2 separate regions of the Homo sapiens genome follow, and region 1 is linked to region 2. The links come from fine-mapping of genetic effects on gene expression. A gene starts in region 2. The other region holds a variant in brackets. All regions are shown on one strand. Distances are from middle to middle. Region 1 has its middle 24 kb from the start of PAG1. Region 2 holds the start of PAG1 (phosphoprotein membrane anchor with glycosphingolipid microdomains 1).

What was found. PIP is the estimated chance that this variant, and not a neighbour inherited with it, causes the effect.
Region 1: its variant is fine-mapped to the expression of PAG1 in whole blood (TOPMed, PIP 0.99).

The regions. Positions count from the first base shown.
Region 1 is chr8:81,133,321-81,138,706 of GRCh38, forward strand. No RefSeq gene overlaps it. Among named protein-coding and RNA genes, the nearest start is that of PAG1, 24 kb to the left of the region's middle. The variant G/A (reference allele first, on the strand shown) is at 2,220.
Region 2 is chr8:81,109,364-81,114,749 of GRCh38, forward strand. It overlaps PAG1 (phosphoprotein membrane anchor with glycosphingolipid microdomains 1), which reads right to left and starts at 2,705. Exons shown (of 9, transcript NM_018440.4): 1 at 2,228-2,705. RefSeq lists an enhancer at 2,151-2,220 and a silencer at 2,711-2,840.

The DNA of each region.
Region 1 (5,386 bases), 24 kb after region 2:
CCAGCCACAGACAACTTCGCACCATAATCTGGAGTTTGAATGCAGTGTGAAGCCTCTGAGCTTTTGCTCACTCTGTTCCTATACCTCCATACTCTCCTGAGCCTCTCAAAATACTACCCTCCTTTCCATATCCAGGCAGGTGTCTTTCTTGAGCCATCTATTCAGAATGCATCACTTTTGTGTTCAAATACCGTGTGGTTCAGATGTCTACTTGGTGTGAATTTCACTTTACTTTATTTTATGTCTTTCCTTCAAAGATCTAGAAGACAGAAACTATATTTCTAGGACCCTGCTAGGTCTTGTGCTTAGTGGTGGTCATTTGATGAGTGTTTACTGAAAATAAATTAACCCAAATGCAGGAGAGGACGTTTGTTTGTGAGGAGGTGAGTTGCAGGAAGAAAGATGGAATCATCTAAGGAAAGTCAGAGACATTTCTGTACACATTGTCACTGAATTCTCTTTGCTTCTCAAGGAGAGGCCGAAGATTTCCTTTCCTGGAACTTGAAACAGAGTGTCCAGAAGGCTTGAGAGATAAGGGGCAGGGAAGCAAAGATGTCTTCCCTTTTATGGAACTCTTTGGGAGCCCAGCTCTAAAGGAGAGAATCAAATCCGTGTTTTCCTGTGTAATTCTTCCCTTTCTTTCTTACGTGTACCTGTGTGGTCCAGGATTCTCCCTCCTAGTTCTCGTGTGGTACCTGTGTGGTCCAGGATTCTCCCTCCTAGTTCTCGTGTGGTACCTGTGTGGTCCAGGATTCTCCCTCCTAGTTCTCGTGTGGTACCTGTGTGGTCCAGGATTCTCCCTCCTAGTTCTCGTGTGGTACCTGTGTGGTCCAGGATTCTCCCTCCTAGTTCTCGTGTGGTACCTGTGTGGTCCAGGATTCTCCCTCCTAGTTCTCGTGTGGTACCTGTGTGGTCCAGGATTCTCCCTCCTAGTTCTCGTGTGGTACCTGTGTGGTCCAGGATTCTCCCTCCTAGTTCTCGTGTGGTACCTGTGTGGTCCAGGATTCTCCCTCCTAGTTCTCGTGTGGTACCTGTGTGGTCCAGGATTCTCCCTCCTAGTTCTCGTGTGGTACCTGTGTGGTCCAGGATTCTCCCTCCTAGTTCTCGTGTGAAGATTAAACTGTGAAGTTTCTTCTCACGTCTGCTGATGTTTACCTTTGGGTCCCCATCACCCAGCCGAGGGCCTGACAGGGAGTGGGCACAGAGTAAATGGCTGGAGCAAGCTGCACAGAACTAACTGTGGCGTGCAGTGAGCGAGGAAGCAGAAATCTGATACTCAGAGGGCGATTGCGAAGGAATCACAGGGAGAATTACAGTGACTGAAAAGTAGCAGGAGGTGAAAGGACAGATGGCAGGATGCAGTAAAGAAAATGGAAGGGAGACACTTGGCTTTGCCATGATTAGTTGAACTAGACGACTTTGGACCCACAATAGAAGTAGAAATATTAATTGGATTCAAGTTAGCAAGTCTTTATTGCACGCTCATTTCTACAATGAGCCATCCTCATTTCTGTAGCTGAGTAAAAAAAAGAGTAGAAGAATATGACTAATTTCTGATTGCAAAGTAATTATAGTTCAGTTGAAATACATGTACAAACACACGTGAGATTGTTTAATTATGACACAGTAGAATATGACATCGAACTTCTTTCCCCTGCTGCATTTAACTTACCCATGAGTCTGAATGGCTTAATGTACAAAATAGACCCCATATCTGCCAACTTTTCTCCATGTTCCCCATACAAAGTCTCCACCTCTTTTGTCTCCCCTGGACCTGCAACAACCTCTTAACTGGTCTGCCTCATTCTAACTTTGTACCCTCATGGTCCATTCTCTGACCAGTAGTCAGAGAGATCTTTCAAAAAACACAAATCCTGTCTTGCCACTCTCCTGCAGAAAACCCTCCCATGCGTCTGGGTGCACCTGGAGTAAAAGGTAAAGTCCATGCGGGATCTAACTCTTGCCTGACTCTCAGCTCCTCTCTTCATGCCTCTCAGCATGCTTCCCTGTGCTTACTCTCCTCCTGCCACACCGCCCTTCTTCCTGTTCCCCCTATCTTTGCAGGGCTGGCTCCTTCTTGTCATTCAGGTCCCAGCTCAGATGTCACCTCCTCAGTGAAGCCTTCCCTGACTATCCCCCCAACCTAAACTATCTGTCCCCTCTCCAGCCACTTTCTTGTATTACCCTGTTATAGAGCTTCATAGTACTTAGCAGCATCT[G/A]AAATGTGTAAAATGCATTTATTGTCTGTCCCCGCCTCCCAGAATGTCCCCAGCTCCTTAAGAGGAGAGATCTCGTTTGTCTTTTTCATTGCTCTATTCCCAGTACCTAGCCTGATATCTTGTGCATAGGCAGCTCTCATCAAATAGTTATTGGGTGAATGAATAAAAAACAGGAATTATTAGAGACAAAGAATGGAGATTGTAGCTCAGGGTAGTTGGGCAAAGTGCTTGGAGGAAGAAATATTATTTTAGCTATGAAGAATGGTGTGGGGAACAGAGGCTAAGAAGCAGCAATGTGCACATTTTTGTCAAAGGAAGACCCTGGCCAGGCTGGAGCAAAAGGTACACAACAATAACAGTGGGGCAGGTGTCATGACAGGGAGTTAAATTTGTATGGAATCAGAGGGCAAAAGAAAGTCATTACACTGCCAAACTGTGTGTGTGTGTGTGTGTGTGTGTGTGTGTGTGTGTATTTTGCCTTAGGTGGCAAGACATTGAAATTCCACAGGGTGCCTAAGAGCTAGGATATCTATTTATCATCTTATTTCCAATTTTGACAAATATGAAACAAATTATAGTCCCTGAATCATGAACATAATGAAAAAAAGTTAGTCGACCCCATATATTTCATATTTATGCCAGTGATGGTGATTTGATTTGATTTTTTGTCTCCTCTGTTTCTCATGAAGTGGTTCACTATTTTGATAGAGCAGCTCCCTGAATTATTCAATCGAGGAATAGTTTTCGTTTGCTTGATGTTTCATTTTCTCTCAGGAATGGCCCTTATAGAATATGCATTTCTTTTCCTTGAGTGAGATAATGTATGTGAAAGTACTTTGCAAACCATCAGGCGCTAAGGAAATGGAAGGTAGAATGATTATTACCTTTTAAGGTCTTAAGAGACATAAACTACTAACAGCATCATCTTATTGCTCTGCTTTTCTTGCTTTTTGTTGCTGTAAAAAGAACTATTTCCTCTCAAGAGATTATTCTCTGCTACAGTCGGGAGGCAAACATGTTTGTCTATACATCGTCCAGTTACTACCTCTAAGAAAATTAACAAAACTCAGATGTTCCTGAGATAAATGTTGGATAAACCATTAGTTGTAGAGAATATTCTTTGTCCAGAAGAACAAAAATATTAAAATTCTGCCGATTTTAAAAAAGCGCTTCTTCCTGACATCCCTCCTTGGCTCTTCCCTTGTGAGCACAGAATGTCCACATGCAGACTCGGGAAGAGTGGCAGTTCCTGTGATCACCTAAGTTGCCATGGACGGCAAGGATTGGGAGACTTCAGTTTTATGTTCTAGTTACCAGTGAAACTGCCCCATTAAATATTTTAAGGAACACATTCGAAGTATGAAAATATTTTCTAAAATAGAATCCATCTCTTCGTTTGTCCTCTAAATATAGCTGATGTGTCCATCATGGGACCTGATCATAATATTTTTATGGTGACATTGATGCTTTCTTTGCAATTTTTGAAAAGTAATAATTTTCTCCATGTTATAGCTATCATAGGAAAAAGCTGTTCTTGGAAATACTGGGATGCCTGGGCCCATCTCCATTAAAAAAGCGAGACTTCAGCAGCCACAAAAAGGAAAGAGATCATGTCTTTTGCAGGGACATTGGTGGGGCTAGAAGCCATTATCCTAAGCGGACTAACACAGGAACAGAACAGCAAACACCGCACGTTCTCACTTATTAGTGAGAGCTGAACAATGAGGCCACATGGACACAGGGAGGGGAACAACACACACTGTGGCCTGCTGGTGGGGACGGGAGCCCCGGGGCAAGGGAGAGCATCAGGAAAAATAGCTAATGCATGGTGGGCTTAATACGTATGTGATGGGTTGGTAGGTGCAGCAAACCACCATGGCACACATTTACCTTTGTAGCAAACCTGCACATCCTGCACATGAAATTAAAATAAAAAATAAGCAAGACTTGGAATTCAGTTAGGAGGCAAAGGACAGAGAGGCAGTAGGGGTGGAATGGTTTTGAGTTCTGGCCTAGATGGAATTCCAATGAGATAAGCTGAAGTGGGTGAGTAGAGGCTGATGGGGGTGGTTTTACCTGAACGAATGTAGGAAAATAGGGACCCAGGCAAGAGCCTTCCAGCGGAGAGGCAAAGCAAAAAAGTGCAGCTTTTTTAGGGGAGAACTAGATGGAATGTAAGAGCAAATGCAAACTTCTAAAAGAACAAGGAGACAAGGACCTTAACTAGTTTAGGAACAGGTAGGGATTAACATTTATCTGATAGGCCGGATGAATTTGGAGTTTGAGTGCAATAATAACAATAATATCTAATATTTATTAAACTTTTAATGCACCAGTTACTATAGCAATCATTTTCATAAATTATCCTGCATTATCTCCTTAATCCTTACAACTTCATAAGATAAAAACTTATTTTAGGTTCTTATCTTATTTTAATGTTGGAGAAAACAAAAGTTTAGGGAATCTAAGATGATTCAGTGGTGAAGCCAGTACCCAAGTTATGCCTGTGTGACCCCCTAATTTATGATATGTATATACTTCTTAAAGATATAATATGGCTTGTGTGCTTGTATTTTTAATTTGAAAAATATGAACACACACACAGAAGTTAAAATTAACCTTAATTCTACCATGGAAAATAAATATCACACAATCCTTCAACAACCCCCATCCCCAAAGGTAACATTACCACTTTAGTATGTGTGTGTGTATATATATATATATATATATATATATATATATAATGTGTATAGTATGTGCACACAACTACATATATATGTAGCCGTTTGTTTTCTGCAACCTTTTATATTAAAAAATAAAACAATCTTTCAAGAAAATGATCTTTTCATATTTGTGCATTTTTCTTCCATAGAAAATAGTGCTGCAAAAATATATATTTACATATATATGTATGTATATAGACAGACAAAATTTTGACGATAAGGGGTTGCAGCAATTTATACTTATGTGAGGGTATGATATGAGGGCTCCTTTTTACTCACATCATTGTGGAAACTAGTTTTTAATTTAAAAATTTTTGGTTATTCTGATAGTGGGGAAATGGTATCTCATTTGTTTTGCCTTTTTTGAGTTATTATTGAAGATGAATATTTTTCTCATATTTTATTGACAACATAAATGTTTCTTAAATATATTAATATAAATGT
Region 2 (5,386 bases):
GACAGACGTGGGTTAAATGCCAGCTCCAATTTCTACTATTTGATCTCACTGAGCTCCCATTTTCTCATCTCTAAAGTAGAGATGAAGCCACTTACCTCAAAGGACTGTGGTGGGGAATTGAGCAAGACAGTGTTAAATACCAGTTGGTGTCTGTATCGCTAGACAGTGCACAATAAATGTTTATACCTTCTCTCCTATTATACACATGAACTGCTTCTGTTAATATTCATCAGCAGCAATTCAATGTCCATAGCAGCAATTCAATGTCCATAGAGTCCAAAGATGCATTTCCTTTCATAACAATGAAAATTTTTCCCAGAACAAGCTTAATATGCCAGATACTGGCCCAACAGCTCTATGTCTATGAACTCATTTAATTCTCACTACTGTTCAGTGGGGTAGGTACTACTACTGTCATCCCCATTGTACAGATGAAGACACTGAGGCACAGACTTTGGGTTACTTGCCTAGATTCAAACAGATGGTACCAGAGCTGGCAGCCTGGCTCCATAGCCTGTCCTCCTAACCAGGCTGCAATAGGGCTTAATGGGTCAATCTGTTTGAGATTCCATGCTTGGATGTAATCTCTTCTAGAGATAAGCACTGGATGCTCTCACAAACCGCAATGTGTTGATGTGACTAACTTTTCAACTTCTGAAATAACATTTTGTGTATTTTCTTAGTATTCCTAAAAAAAAACCCTTTACACTTTAAATAAGGTGCCTATAACTAGTTCATCTTGTTCTGCATGCTGAAATACCATAAATAAATGCACTTCTCTCTTCAAAGATTATGTAAATAAATCTTACATTAAAACATACCCCTGAGCTTTGGTTTAAACAATAATTTCAAGTCCAAATTAAACATTTATGTATGTGTATATATATTTAGCAGGAAAGTCTTAATATGACCTATTTTGTTAAACTAATGACATCTATACCCAATACTCCAAATATTCCTCTTATTTATAATATTCGCTGTGTAACAGTCACACAGCAGTACTGCATGGTACTTCAAAGTACTATTCCTTTTACAAGTTTAACCAACTCAGGTATTAAACATCAATGATGATAATCCATAGCTCTGCTTAAAAGGAATCTCTCGGGAACAGCTGAGAAAGAAAGGTTAAAGATTTCTATCCTTCAAAGTAGGGCACTGCAGCTACCTATAAATCATGCTCTTTGTTTATTAAGATAATTAGGCCCATCAGTACACTTAACTTTTAGACTCAACAATTGTCTGGCATGAACAATTTCCACTTTTTCTAAAACAAAGGGGATGTGTTCAAAAAGCGGTCCTCTGCATGCTCTCTGCACAATGCATGCTATTTTAAAACATGATTTATGGGTCTAATTCCTGGAGCTGCCTTGAAAAATATAGTGGGTTGTTCCTCCCATGCTCCCTATTAGGAGAAGACACTCCAATTTGAAGAGTGCACTCTGTTTCAGACTTCAGGCCGCTATATCATGTCAGCATTTTCAGTAAATACTGTTCAATTGGACTTTAAACAAATGGAATGGAGGGCCACAGCTGCAGCCACTGCAGAGATAAAGTTATCCAGCCGGGAGGCTTACATAAGAGGTGCAGGACAATCAGGGTGAAATCCAAGTGTCATTATCTGAATCCTATTTCTTGAGACTTGCCTACATTCTTAAAGTGTATGAATTCACACGCCCAGAGCTCGTTTTATTTGCCTTAGGGCATAAAACACCGGGTCGACATATAAGTTGTTTTTTCCCTAAAGGACTAGGCTCCAATTATGAAAAGGTTGGCAACTTCTGCCTAGGGGAAGAGTAAAGCGGGATGCGCGGGAAGCCTGCAGGCCTGAAAGAAATGGCTCGCCCAAAGATCCATCGCAGTGCTGGCCACACTCCCCAGAGGAATTAGGATGGAGGTGACAAGACCCTGCCCAGCCCCTTCACCCCAACGTAAACACAGAGTCAAGGAGCTTGGAATGAATAATTAGCACGCAGCAGTCGAAATGCCCTAGGAGTACCTGTCCTCTCCCAGCATATTTCCAACTGGCACATTCGTGAGATGCTGAGGTCAGCCAGCCCTGGACTCCAGACCTTCCAGCTGCCTTGTCCCCTTCTTGGCACCCCGCACTCCCTCCTCGAGCTGGAACTCTGTTAACAAGAGGTGCCACCCTCGGCTTCCCACAAGAAGATAAAAACGAACCTCTCCTTCCCACGGCTCCCTCCAACTTCAGAAACTACAGTCAACTTACTGGGACTCAGGAGGCAGGGAGTCTTCCTGGCGGACGGCGCTCGGAGGCAGCCTCTGCAAACTCCGGCGCGCAGCGCCGCCGCCCCGGCACAGCCCGGCAGCAGCGGCAAGTGCAGGACCAGGCGCCGCCGCTCTGCACCAGTCGCCTTGGCTCAGCTGTGCCGGGCGCCGGGCATTCGCCAGGGCACACGACTCAGCGAGGCGGCGGCTGGGACTGAGGCTACTGCACCCGGCCGCGCGGACCCGAGCGCTGCAGCTGCCTCCAGCCCCGGAGCGCGGCGCTCCGAGCCCCTGGTGGGTGTCTCTGGCTCCAAGGGAATCACGGCTCAATTAGGGACCTGCCAGGAGAAAAACCGATGCGCTGCCGCAGGCAGAGCCGCCAGCCCGCCCCCAGTCGGCTGGTCACATCGCGGGCGCGCAGACGGACAAGCGAGCGGGAGGGTACCGCAGCCAGCACTCGCCGCCGCGCCGCGGAGAATGACAGGCGCCGAGGCGGAGCAGCCGCGCGGGGAGCGGGGCGCGAGTGCGCATGATCCTGGCCGCAGCGGCACGTCACGGGGGAGGAGGGGCGGGCCGCGGGGCGGGAGGGGGCGAGCCGGGCGGGGCCGGGCTGGGGGTGCACACGGGTGAGGACCGGCGCGGGGCCTGGCTTGCTCGCGGGAGGATGCAGGAAGTCTTCCCTGCCCTGATTTTATGAACCCAAAGCTCTGTGGTTGAACTTGTCCCAGGAGCCCATTGTCCTTTAAACAGCACCGTTTAAGCGGTCCTTAAGGTCCCTGGGGAGCCCACAAAAGCCAATTTAATTCAGGTTACAGCTTAACCGTAAAGGGTTGCCATTTGGGGGACAGTGATCTTCTATTGTGGCTGTGCATTAAAATAACTTGGGGAGCTTGTAAGAACCCTTTGCCCCGGACGCATCCCAGAACAAGTACAGGACAATGTCTGGGTGGGGCCCACCCAGGTATCAGTAGGTATCTAAAGATACCAAGGTACAGCAGTGCTTCTCAAACCCTCAGTGTGTGACAGAATCTCCTGCGGATTGTGATGAGATGCAAGATTCAGATTCAGTAGGCCTGGGATAATGAGGGAGACATCCTTTCTAACAAGCTCTCGGAGGATGCCAATACTGGAGGTCCAGACCCCCATCCTTGCTACTTAACGTGTGATCTAGAGCCTGGAGCAGAGCTTCTGAAACAGTTGGCCTGTCTGACAGTCACCCGAGGGGCTTATAAAAAACGCAGAACAAATGCCCAGGCCGTACCCCCAGTGATAGTGGTTCTGGCTCAGCCCCTGGCAAAGGTGGGCTTCTAGAATTCCATTTGGCATCAACACTCTAAATAAATCTGATAGGGGTTTTGTTTGGGCCAAACTTCAAGTTTACACTAGCAACCTGGAATTGGGAATAAACTTTTGCACTTACAAGGAGACAAACCAAGTCTAGAACTCAGGACATCTGACTTTGAGTCAGGGATTCTAAACCAACGGGTGCTTTATCTGACTAGTCCCAATTTTCTAAAATTATGATGCATTACTTAGCAAGAAAAAACATATAAATGGCATTAAATATACACACACACACTCTATTGAACACTCGTTACACATATCATTAATGGGAGCTTAAAGGTGGCTGGGGAAGAAGGCTCATCAGGAGAGGGTAAGGAAGACAGTGATGGAGTAAGGGATGTTGTTAGTGTGTCGCAGAGGGAAGGGTATGTGGGAGGAAACAGTTTAGACTCAGCCTACAGCTTGGAAAAGCCCATTGGGGAAGCGGACCCAGGAACCAGACTTGGCCTCTTGCTTCAGAGCATGGTATGAAACTCAGGTGTTTAAGAACTTATGGAGTATAACATTTCACATACGTTACCTCACTGAAATTTCACAGTGGTCTCTTAAGTTGAATAATAATATAAAAAAGTATCCCCATTTTATATATTAAAGAAGACATCCTGGACATGAGTTGACTAATGGTGGAACTTGAATAAAAGTAGGGATCTCCGTGTTGGACTTGGCTTCTACAACTCTGGAGAAGAGGACAATTTAGACCTTATAAAGCAAATGGTTTCTGTGTTTACTAGTCACATCTTTTACAGGCTGTGCCTAAATTTGGAGTTAGGAAGGCTTTCATTCTTGTGGGGAGGAAATACATTTTGTGTCTTCCAGTTTTGCTACACTTGTTAGGATACACTTAGAACAAAATGTTCTAAGAGCAACCCGGTCCTAGGACATTGCAGTTCCACAGTGCAGGCTTCATTGAGGAGTTTGAAGGGCAATATTCACGTTATCTGGTGACAAGTGTAATTACCATCCTCATTTTACCCAGGCTCAGAAGCTAAGTGATTTAGACAAATTCACGAATGCAGGCAGGAGCCAATCTCTAGCCTCTGTCCTTTTCCTCTGCTCTCTTTTCACCAAGTAACATGCTGAGGATTGTTTTTCATTTCCAAATTTTTCATATCAGGATTTGCCATCAGTAAATTGGAACTCAAATGTATTTCAAAGCCACTCCTAGATAGAGAACCAAAAGTGTCAGGATCAATTCTTGTGCTTGTGGTAGATGCTATGGGCTATACTCTCGGTCTGAGTAATGTTTTGGAAGCAAGTATGTGATAGTTATATACAGTCTTCTAATCCAGAGGTTTGACTGGGAATGCTACACTGCCAACTGTGGTCTACCTGCCTTTATCTTTACTTCTTATCTAACTCTTCCATTACAGCCATTCTTCGGTGTGATTATGAAATTAATTCCTAAGAAAAAAGAATTCTTTGAAGGAGCTGGTACATCACAGGTTGTAAAACTTACTTCAGTTTTTAATAAGAAATATATATATATTTTAAATATGAAGGTAGCAGAATAGTCATGTTGGGACCTTTAGAAGAACCCAAAGTTGTCATTGTTTTCTTAGGTGCCCGACATTTCAATCAAAATATTTACATAATTCATTTGTATATTGATTTCAAGAGATCCAAGATTTAATTAAATAAAAAGTTACTATTAATTGGTGTGTCCTACTGCTATTGAATTTTGAACCATTGTTATTGGCATTAAATACATGAAATATATAATATTGTCTTGATACTATATTGACTGTGCTTTAATATTGACTGTGTCTTGATATTGACTGTGTCTGTATTTAGAATTTATTTCACATCAGCTGCTATT